Regions from separate parts of the Homo sapiens genome. Here region 1 is linked to region 2. Evidence: fine-mapped expression QTL. Tissue or cell type: whole blood. Region 2 holds a variant in brackets; the other region holds the start of a gene. Each region is shown on its reference strand, or each on the opposite one. Region 1 holds the start of RPL18 (ribosomal protein L18). Region 2 overlaps SETDB2-PHF11 (SETDB2-PHF11 readthrough).

Evidence for each region. PIP is the estimated chance that this variant, and not a neighbour inherited with it, causes the effect.
Region 1: it holds the start of RPL18, and the variant in region 2 is fine-mapped to the expression of RPL18 in whole blood (TOPMed, PIP above 0.99).

Annotation. Positions count from the first base shown.
Region 1 is chr19:48,616,279-48,621,650 of GRCh38, forward strand. RPL18 (ribosomal protein L18) reads right to left here and starts at 2,900. Exons shown (of 7, transcript NM_000979.4): 1 at 2,863-2,900; 2 at 1,513-1,599; 3 at 1,038-1,145; 4 at 448-546. The coding sequence starts at 2,865. It overlaps SPHK2 (sphingosine kinase 2), which reads left to right and starts at 3,228. Exons shown (of 7, transcript NM_020126.5): 1 at 3,228-3,265; 2 at 4,124-4,275. The coding sequence starts at 4,237. RefSeq lists enhancers at 1-708, 1,541-2,371, 2,642-3,321, 3,482-3,571.
Region 2 is chr13:49,528,179-49,533,550 of GRCh38, forward strand. SETDB2-PHF11 (SETDB2-PHF11 readthrough) reads left to right here. Exons shown (of 21, transcript NR_135324.2): 21 at 333-798. It overlaps PHF11 (PHD finger protein 11), which reads left to right. Exons shown (of 10, transcript NM_001040443.3): 10 at 333-798. The coding sequence ends at 487. It overlaps RCBTB1 (RCC1 and BTB domain containing protein 1), which reads right to left. Exons shown (of 13, transcript NM_018191.4): 13 at 3,768-5,372. Among named protein-coding and RNA genes, the nearest start is that of PHF11, 35 kb to the left of the region's middle. The variant C/T (reference allele first, on the strand shown) is at 2,268.

The DNA of each region.
Region 1 (5,372 bases), not on the chromosome of region 2:
CCTTGGCGCAGCAGAGCCCTGGTAACCAACACTATCGTTTACTACCCGGAGCACCCTGGGCTGACAGCAGCAGTTCTCAACACTTCCGGAACTTTCACCACCACATCCCTGGTGTTATGCTAGAAACTACAGCAAGGAAGCTGGGCCAAAAAAAGACCTGTGCAGAGGTGACAAAGGAGTCTAGACTTGAGCCCAGGCTGTCTGGCTCTAGGGGCCAGCACTAACAGTTTACAACTTGCCCCAGAAGAAGCTTGCCCAGGGGACCCCACCATCAACCATGCCAGAGACGACCCACACCAATCCTCAAAGCCACTCAGACAGGCAGGATGCTTGCCTCACCAGCGGTGGCAAGACTGAGGATGGACCAGCACAGCACAGCACAGCACAGCACAGCACAGCACAGTACAGCAAGGGTCTGATGGGTCTGCCCAGCCCCCGCCAGCTCACCTTCAGTTTGGGTACCTCCTGAACCCGCACATCATCAGTTATGGTCCCCACAACCACGGCCGTCTTGTTTTCCCGGCCAGGAAGCTTCATCTTCCGGATCTTAGGGTGGGGAGGATGTACGTCGTAAGTTGTTCTGGTGTTTACATTCAGCCCCGCTTGAGGCATCCCCAGGCCAGGGCAGCTGTGCCCTCTAACGGGACCCCCCACTCACACCACACCCCTTAAACCCCACAGGCCTCTCCTCAGGTCCAGCTGGGGAAAGCTCCAGATAAAAAAAAAAATGCAGACTGTTCAATAGGGCCTCCCTCAGCAGAGCCTTTGACATAAAACTCAGTTATGACTTGGGGCAATCTCCTGAAGCCACCAGGACACCTCCACCTCACAAAGAGAAGGAGAGGAGGACCAGGAGACTTGCCCACTGCCCATGGACACTCAGTTCCAACCAACAGTCCAAGCTCTACGCTCGCGACTGGCTGAGACAAACCCTTGATGCCCTGGTTGCTCCCAGAGCTCCAAGTCCTGCCTCCCTTCCAGACAGACAAGACCCAGCGGCTCCCAGGTCTACCGTGCTCTCTGGACCAGCCACTCACCATCCGGGAAAGGGACAGAGGCGGCCGGTTGGTGCGACTCATAAACAACCTCTTCAACACAACCTGGTTGAATGTGGAGTTGGTTCTTCTGGCCAGAAACCTGTATAACTGGAGGGACGGGAAGACAGTGAGAAGCTGGGACAGCCTGCTCCCCCGCAGCCTTCCAGTGAAGGGGCAAACACATGATGATCTGGACTAAAATAATCTTTATCCCTTTCCCCCAACCCACCGACCTAGAGGGAGAAAGCTGGCCCAGGTCCTTCCTGGCCAAGGACCTAGAAAATCCTGGCTCCACTCCCGAGCTGTACACAGCCTAGAGGCTGAAAATACAAATGCAGGAGACCCTGGAACAGAACCAGAGACCCGAGACTGCTCTGCAGGCCCCTGGGAGGAGCTTGGTGCCAGCACTAGAATGGAGGATCTGCAAGTCAGACCTGGGGTGACCCTTCCCAAAGACCTCAGGGCCCAGCCTCACCTTGACCAACAGCCTCAGGTAGATATCCTGGCTCTTGGGCTCCTTGCGCCGAACCTTTCGGTCCTTGTTATGGCGGATGTCCACTCCCTGTGGGGGTGAAGAGGCAACCATGGACCCAATTACCCCCAACCATAGCCAATTATTACTTATTTCTGAAACTGAGAGCTGGGACACAAGCCCAGGTCTGAACACACCAGCTCAAATCCCAGGCCCACCACCAGGAGACCTGTGGGCTGCCACTGATCCCTCTGTAAAAAGGGGCTGTTTACAAAGCCTTCAGCCCATGGCACACAGAACCCTGAAACATCGTAACACAGCAATCATATTAACTTAATACAAAAAGGTCAATTCTTTACAACTTGTATTTTGCAACAATGTTATCAAAACTGGTTCCCATACCCGGAGGGATAACCAAAAATATCAAACCAATGGCAGTAATGATGAAAACGAATCCTTATTCAGAACCTAGCAATACTACTAGAACCACCTCTCCTACAGCATCAGTCAATCCAACAACCCTTACCAAATAGTGTCTTTTTAAAACATCGTTTTTAAAGTGGAGACAGGGTCTCACAATATTGGCCAGGCTGGTCTTGATCTCCTGGGCAAGGAATCCTCCCGCCTCGGCCTCCCAAAGTGCTAGGATAACAAGCGTGAGCCGCCTCGCCAGGCTCCTACCGCCCTGCTGCCTTTCTGAGCAACTTAAGTTTTTCAGACTGTGTTGACAATTACAAGAACTATTTAATAGCTCCACTTATGCAGCACTTACTGTGTGCAAAACCCCGTGATGAGCATCTCCTGTGAATTATTTCTTCCCAAATTCACAAACTTGTCAGATGAGATTACTGTGTACCCAACGAACAGCCAGACACTGGGGCAAAGGCTCAAAAACCATCACAAGGTGGGAAGGGGCCTGAGACTCAGAGACCTGCCTGGTCCCCAAATCCAGTTATTCGGCTCTCGATCCTCTCACCCGCCGCGGCCCCCATCGAACCCGACTTTTCATACTAGAAAGTGACAGGTCCAGATAAAGGCAGCAAAGCCAAATAACTAAGAGTGGCTGCGGGTCCAGCCACCTGGGTCGGAATCCTGGCTCTGCCACTTCCTGGCTTTGTAAACCCAGTCATATCAGCCTCCGAGTACCTCCACTTGGTCATCTACTAAGTGGGGGCGGTAGGCTATGACTGACCCATCCCTGCTTTCCTGGCCCCCAGAGTAGGTCCCCAGTATCGGGAATTGCTCCCTCCGGGCAGCCGCAGACCCCCTGCCGCCCTCCAGCGTGCCCCTAGCCCAAAACCACGGCGGATGGCAGCGGATTATCCAGCCCCGAACGCCGCAAAGCGAGCTCACCATGATGGCGCCTCCTGCTCGGCCAGGTCCGGAAAGAGAGAACGGGCTGGGGTGGGCGGGGAAAGCCTCAAGCGAGTGGCGCCGCCGTGACGTCACATGGGTGCGACGCGGCGCTCTACCACGATCCGGACTTCTCTGTGGTGAGTTGGACGACTGACTAGCCGGGCGATAACGGCAGAGAGCATAGAGCGCAGGAACAAGCGCAACGTCCAAGAGGGAAGGGCCAGCACGTCGGGGGCCTCTCTGGCCCTACCCAGGCCGTGTTCTCGATAGCTTTCCGGAAGAAAGGGATCTGGGAGCGAGATGCGTGTAGCTAGCACGATGCGTCGCGCGGTGACGCTCTGGCCCGACGCCGACGGCCTCTCAGTGGCTCCCGGAGGACCCGGCGGGCCCAGTGTTGGAGGTGAGGAGGCGGGGCTGGCAGGGCTAGTCGGGGCATCTGGAAATTTCCGACCCCACGCTTCGGGCGTTTCCTTATCAGGTTCACCGCTCCCTGATCTCGCGCTGCACTTCGTAGGCGCAGCCGCTGCTTGGGAAGTCCTACTTAAGGTCTAACCCGAGATGATCTTGCTGCACCTCAATCTATAGCATCCTGTATTCCCATCCTTTGAGTTCCGCTTCTCCTTCTCCCCCGGCCCCTAGATGGCCCTTCCCTGACCTAGAAAGAGGGAGACAGAGTTTCATAGGGGAGGCAAAATGGAGACTCCGTGGCTTGGGGGTGGGGGGAATGGAGGCCCAAAGGGTAGGAAGGAGACCTAGAAAGAGGGGTGAGATGGAGACCCAGGGAGAAGTAGTGGCAAAGAAAGATGGTGAGATGGGGCCTTGCAAGGCTATAACCAAATTCAAATCCTGGCTCTGCTAGTTACTAATGGGGTGATTGGGCAAGTCATTTAACCTCTCTGTGATCTTGGGAAAATCACTTAACTTCTTTGGGCCTTACTCTCCTTATGGACAAAAAGGGGATGACAACAGGCCTGGCACACAGGGGTGTTTTTCAGGATTATGAAAGTTAATAAAACTGCTGAGGTCAATATTTTGCACATAATAAGTGCTCAATAAAAATTAGCCTTCACTCCTATTATAGCATACATATTGTGTGCAACCAGATGGACTGGCTGGGGCAGTGATTAAAATGACTTATCTACTCTTCCCCCCACCCGCCAGGGAGGCCCCTGCCTCTTGGTTCTCAGGCACATTGAGCCTGGAAGGGCCTCCTGCAGTTGGCTGTCAATGCTGCTCCTCACTTACCTCTCCTCCACAGAGCTGAAGGTCAGGCCAGGACAGTGAGACCTGACTCCTTGCTCCTACCAGCCTACTATGGCTTAAGACCCAGGGCCAGGGTCCCGTTGATGTAACAGAGCAGAGGACCAGCAGATGAATGGACACCTTGAAGCAGAGGAGCAGCAGGACCAGGTAAGGGACCATCTAAAAGCCAAGATCCTCATACTGTGGAAAGACAAAATCTGAAGCTTTTCTTTAAAAAAAAAAAAAAAAAATTGGAGGCCAGGCGTGGTAGCTCAAGCTTGTAATCCCAGCACTCTGGGAGGCCAAGGCCTGCGGATCACCTGAGGCCAGGAGTTCGAGATCAGCCTGGCCAACATGGTGAAACCCCATCTCTACTAAAAATACAAAAATTAGCCAGGCATGGTGATGCGCACCTGTAATCCCAGCTACTCGGGAGACTGAGGCAGGAGAATCATTTGAACCCGGGAGGCAGAGGTTGCAGTGAGCCGAGATCGCGCTGCACTCCAGCCTGGGTGACAGAGTGAGACTCCGTCTCAAAAAAAAAAAAGAAAAAACAGGGTCTCACTCTTGCCCAGGCTGGAAAGCAGTGGCACAATCACAGCCTACTGCAGCTGCAACCTCCTGGGCTAAAGTGATCTTCCCACCTCAGCTTCCCAAGTAGCCTCCACCATGGCTGGCTAATTTTTTTATTTTTATTTATTTATTTATTTTGAGGTGGAGTTTCGCTCTTGTTGCCCAGGCTGGAGTGCAATGGCACGATCTTGGCTCACTGCAACCTCCGCCTCCCGGGTTCAAGCAGTTCTCCTGCCTCAACCTCCCAAGTAGCTGGGATTACAGGCATGCGCCACCACACCCAGCTACTTTTGTATTTTTCATAGAGATGAGGTTTCTCCATGTTGGTCAGGCTGGTCTCAAACTCCCGACCTCAGGTGATACGCCGGCCTCGGCCTCCCAAAGTGCTGGGATTACAGGCATGAGCCACTGCACCCGGCCAATTTTTTTATTTTTTCTAGAGACTAGGTCTCCCTCTGTTGCCCAGGCTGGTCTTGAACTCCTGAGCTCAAGGGATTCTCCCACCTCAGTCTCTCAAAGTGTTGAGCTTACAGGCATGAGCCACCGCGCCCAGCCTGGGAGCCCTTCCATAAGTGATTTCAGACCTTCTCTCCAGGCAGGTGTTCCAGTGGGATAATTTAGGAATCAGAGAAACTGAGGGGTTGAGGAGGATACTTATTATTTATTATTTAGGTGCACTGGCCCAGTCAGAT
Region 2 (5,372 bases):
ATGGATATAGTATAGCATGAAGGTTATACAGTCACTGTTTTCAAGTTCTCAAAGATATACAAAGGGACTTGTTCTGCTATAAATGTGCACAAAATCTTAAGGGTTTACTGAACAGCTTTGTGTATGATAAATGTTAGAATTCTGTCCTGAATTAGAAGGAGGAAGTGAAGGCATAAAGAAACCAGCTCCTGCCCATAAGGCTCTGGATCCTTTTCACCAGAGGCACGAGGATTGTGTATCTGTACCTGCAAGTGAAAGGGGCTAGAAATGGTACATTATTTCTAATAAAACTACTGAATAAGCTGAAATAATTTTATTTCTTCTTTTCATAGCAATAGAGAAAAAAATTCATGCATCTCAACAAAGGTGGCAGCAGTTGAAGGAAGAGATTGAGCTACTTCAGGACTTAAAACAAACCTTGTGCTCTTTTCAAGAAAATAGAGATCTTATGTCAAGTTCTACATCAATATCATCCCTGTCTTATTAGGGATTACCGTTTCCTAAGCCAAGAGTCATGTCAAATTGCAATCAGGCTCAAAACCAGAGACCAGGCTGTGAAATCCACACATCTTTAGAACTAGTCGTCTCCTCTTGGCCTCAGCAGCTCTTCCCTGTTCTTACTGGTTGACATTTTGATCACTCTTTGCACACTCTTGTGTTTTTTGCTCACTGTCACATTCCCAGCACCTAGTATGCTCAGTAAATGTTTGTGGAATAAGTGCATAAAATGTTCTTAACCTTTGATTCTACTTACAGCCCATGATAGCCTCTTAGATATAATAAATTTGGATTATACTACTTTACTTGTACCAAATTTGCCTGTTTTCGTGTCACAAAGTCTGCTTTTGAAAAGTCTCTTTTCAGCCACAGTTATCACGTGGAGATTCATCATCTTCAAAACAGACACCTAAATTTTAAATTGGACTCTGAATAAGAACATTATCGGGAGTATGCAAGAATGAAAAAAAAAATTGACAGTTACATTTTTCTCAATCTAATATACGATTCTGGTTTTTATGCCCACACTATCACGTCTGACCCCTGAAAACTTAACATTCACAGTTCTCATTTTTTACCATGGTACTCTGATTTTCAATAATGCTGCGTCTCAAAATGGGTTTTAACTGAGTCTCCAAGCATGGTGTCTGACATGTAATAAATAAGTACTGGAAAAATATTTGCAGGAGATGAAAAAGAACAGTCCATTCCAGTTGTAATGGCAGCCCTAGCCTAAGTTCTTATATCTTAGGGACAAAATCTAAACCAGTGGATTTCAAATCCGGCCGCACATCAGAATCATGTGGGGCACTTTAAAAACTACAGAAGTGAAGACCCCATCCAACACCCTCTGAACAGATTTCCGCTAGTCTAGATGATTATTGATTACTGTAGCTTCAGCTTCCTATCCTGATATTAAGTCTTAGCAAAGTTTTTGGTTGTTGTTTTGTTTTGTTTAAGACGGAGTCTCACTTTGTTGCCAGGCTGGAGTGCAGTGGTGTGATCTCGGCTCACTGCAACCTCTGCCTCCTAGGTTCAAGCGATTCTCCTGCCTCAGCCTCCCAAGTAGCTGGGACTACAGGCGCGCACCACCATGCCCAGCTAATTTTTGTATTTTTAGTAGAGATGGGGTTTCACCATGTTGGCCAGGATGGTCTCGATCTCTTGACCTCGTGATCTGCCTGCCTCGGCCTCCCAAAGTGCTGGGATTACAGGCGTGAGCCACCACGCCCAGCCATCTTAGCAAAGTTTATCTGACTAATCATTCTGATGTCATGATCTTTATTTAAAAAAAAAAACCTTTGTCCCCCACTTTACTTTCACGTTTAACCTGTGACTCACACAGCATGTAACTGTGCACCATGGAGCACCATGTGTTTGGTGGCCATGAGGCTGGCTACTGGGCAAACCCGAGTATGGGTTCATAAGGCGGAGCCGAGTATGAACTTCAGCTATGTCACTACTGAAAAACTTGAATCCGATTATTTAATCTGAGAATGCTGCTGCCTACCTTATGGGACAAAATATGGACAAGTAAGTAAAATGTGAAGCAGAGAGCACAATGTCTGGCACTATGGGAAATAAATGTTAAAACACACCCATGCACGCACACACTCCCCTTGCTAACATTTCTGTCTTATTTTCTCCATTCTAACCAAACTTAATTATGATAAGCTCTGGAAGGCTCATTAGCCCCCATCTCTTGTGCCTCTTTTTGTTTTGGAGATGAGCTAAAAGGACACTTTATATTTTCCCCTATCCAACACAAG[C/T]GTTATCTTCAGAACAACTAACTGCTTGTCATGTTAACCCTATTAACTGTATTAGTCCGTTCTCACACTGGTATGAAGAAATACCAGAGACTGGGTAATTTATAAAGGAAACAGGTTTAATGGACTCAGTTCCGCATGGCTGGGGAGGTCTCAAGAAACTTACAATTGTGGCGGAAAGGGAAGAGGCCCGTCTTACGTAGTGGCAAGTAAGTGAGAGCACGCAAAGCCCAGGGGGAACTGCCATTTATAAAACCATCAGATCTCATAAGAACTCCCTCAATAGCATGAGAACAGCATGGGGAAACCGCCCCCATAATCCAATCACCTCCCAACAGGTCTCCCTCAACAACTGAGGATTACAATTCAAGATAAGTTGGGTGGGGACACAGAGCCAAACCACATCATCCTATTTGGTTTTCTCTCACTGACTGTTATGAAAAGCTCTTTATAAGTATCTCATTGTGTTGTTAATTCCTAAACCTATCTCCCTCTCTCCTAATAATTCATATGTTCTTTGAGGATAGGGAATATGCCTTTCCCTTCAAGTACCCCCAAAGGTACAGACACATTTTTCTACTGTGCCAGTTCAACTGTACTACCCTTCAGCAGGAATAAAATCCAAAGATTTCTATGATGTTTGTTTGTGTATAGTTGAGAATCAAGCAGTTGACATGTTCATGCTGGTACCTATTTTTAGCCTGATACCCATTAAGAATCACACCACTGATTTTTTTTATTATGGTAAAATATATATATAACCTAAAATTTGCCATCCCAATCATTTTTAAATGTATGGTTCAATGGCATTAAACATTCATTTTTGTGCAACCATCACCACCATGCACCTAAAGCAGCAGTCCCCAACCTTTTTGGCACCAGGGACTGGTTTCGTGGAAGACAATTTTTCCACGGACCATGGGGATGGGGCGGTTGGTCAGGGGTGGGGAGGATGGTTTTGGGATGAAATTGGTCCACCTCAGATCACCAGTCATTAGATTCTCATATGGAGCACACAACCTAGATCCCTTGCATACTCAGTTCACTGTAGGGTTTGCACTCCTATGAGAATCTAATGTTCTAATGTTGCCACTGATCTGACAGGAGGCAGAACTCAGGCAGTAATGCTCACTCATCCGCCACTCACCTCCCGCTGTGCGACCTCTTCCTAACACGCCAGGGATGAATATGGGTCTGTGGCCCGAGGGTTGGGGACCCCTGACCTAAAGGACTCTTCATCTTGGAAAACTGAAACTCTGTATCCATTAAACAAGTTCCCCATTCTCCTCTCCCCTCAGACCCTGGCAATGACCATTCTACTATGTCTCAATGAATTTGACTAAGTATATCACACAAATGGCATCACATAGTATTTTTCTGTGAGTGGCTTATTTCACCCAGCATAATATCCTCAAGTTCACCTCTGTGCACCATGTGTCAGAATTTCTTTCCTTTTTAAGGCTGCAGACTACTGATTTTGAAGGAAAAAAACAACTCTATGTGCCTGTTTTAATGTTACTTTGTTTATTAACATGTCGTTCTAAATATTACATAAATACAGCTTACATACTAGAGTATCAAACATTGTTCCAGTAAGAAGTTCAAGAGTACATTTAGGGCTATCTTAAGAAATATGAATACTTTGGCTTCCATTATTACATTAGATGAAAAAATCAATTCAAATAAGAGTTGTCATATCCTGCTATGATTAACAAAAAAACAAGTAGAAAAATAAGAGAGTGTATTTAAAAAAAATAATCAAATGCTTTTTGAAAGACCTGTTCTCTTCACTGCCACACATATTCATACAAATGACTTAGTAATCTAATATGAGAAGTGGTCCTTCACTTATATTAGGAACTTGGTAAATATTTGTTGAATGAATGAACTATCTATGGATATGAATTTACTACTTTAATTTGTGCTTTTTTTGAAAAAAAGTTTTCAAGTAAGAGCAATAGTAAACATACTGAAGTTCACATTTTGCTCAGATCATAAGCCTATAGAACAGTGATTGTTACAAACACCACCCATCATAGCACAAATCAATGTGCATTTCTGAAGCTAGTAAGAAAAGTTCTATCATGTTGTAGAACGAATTCTAACCGACTAATTCACTGGGCTTCAATCACTTGTGATATGGTCAAGAAAAGGGGGCTGGGGCTCCTAGGCTTGTATCTATTTCAGCTATCAGTGAATTCCTATCTTTAGGGCCTCACTCCCCTTCCCACCCCAATAGACACAAATTTAAAAACATTGCTAAAAATAGTAGTTGTAGCATGTCTTCACCCACTTGTAATTTGGCTCTGAAAATGTATTCAGGCTCCAGGTTCAGAAGAGAGACTTTCCAAGCAGGAGACAAAATTCACTAAGGGAACTCACTCAAATGGAAATGAGTTCATGGACCAGAGAGCAAAGCAAAACATTGCTCTTAAAAGCAAGCTCAACGGACACACATGATGAAACTCACAGTTGAACACTCTTACATCCCAAAGTCACCTTCCATAACCAGTTCAAATAAACTACTGTCTTTTAATAGGATCTTTTCAGGAACACCATAATTTTGGTGCTTTTTCAAGGTGAAATTGTGCTGTTATACCTAAGATGTTTAAAAACAGAGGAAAACCAAAAGTGAAAGATGATAAAGTTTCACATAAGCCAATGTGTGATGGATTTGGCCTAAAGTAGATAAAGCAAATTCCACTAAGTCTTGTAAGAGGGTTGACTTGAAGAACCACTTCTTCCAGTCATATATAGTAGATATGATGATTCAGCAGTCATAATTTAGGAAGGCAAGAGTATACTATACATGTCATTATTTTCCTCTTAAGTTTGCATTTATAGAAGAAGGTGGTGGGGGACAATTTAAACTTGAGTTCTCAAGTTCTACCTTAATGAAATAAAACACCATTGGATAAGTAGTGGAGATTCTAATTTATAAAATATTCACCTTCATCAAATTTCTTTCATTATCAACTTTTCACGGATACTTCTAAATTACTATTCTTTATGCACTTAAATCTTAAGAGAAATCTTGACTAACCTAGAATATTTATCTTTACATAATTATCATTTCAACAGGTTTAATATACGTTAAACTTATTACTT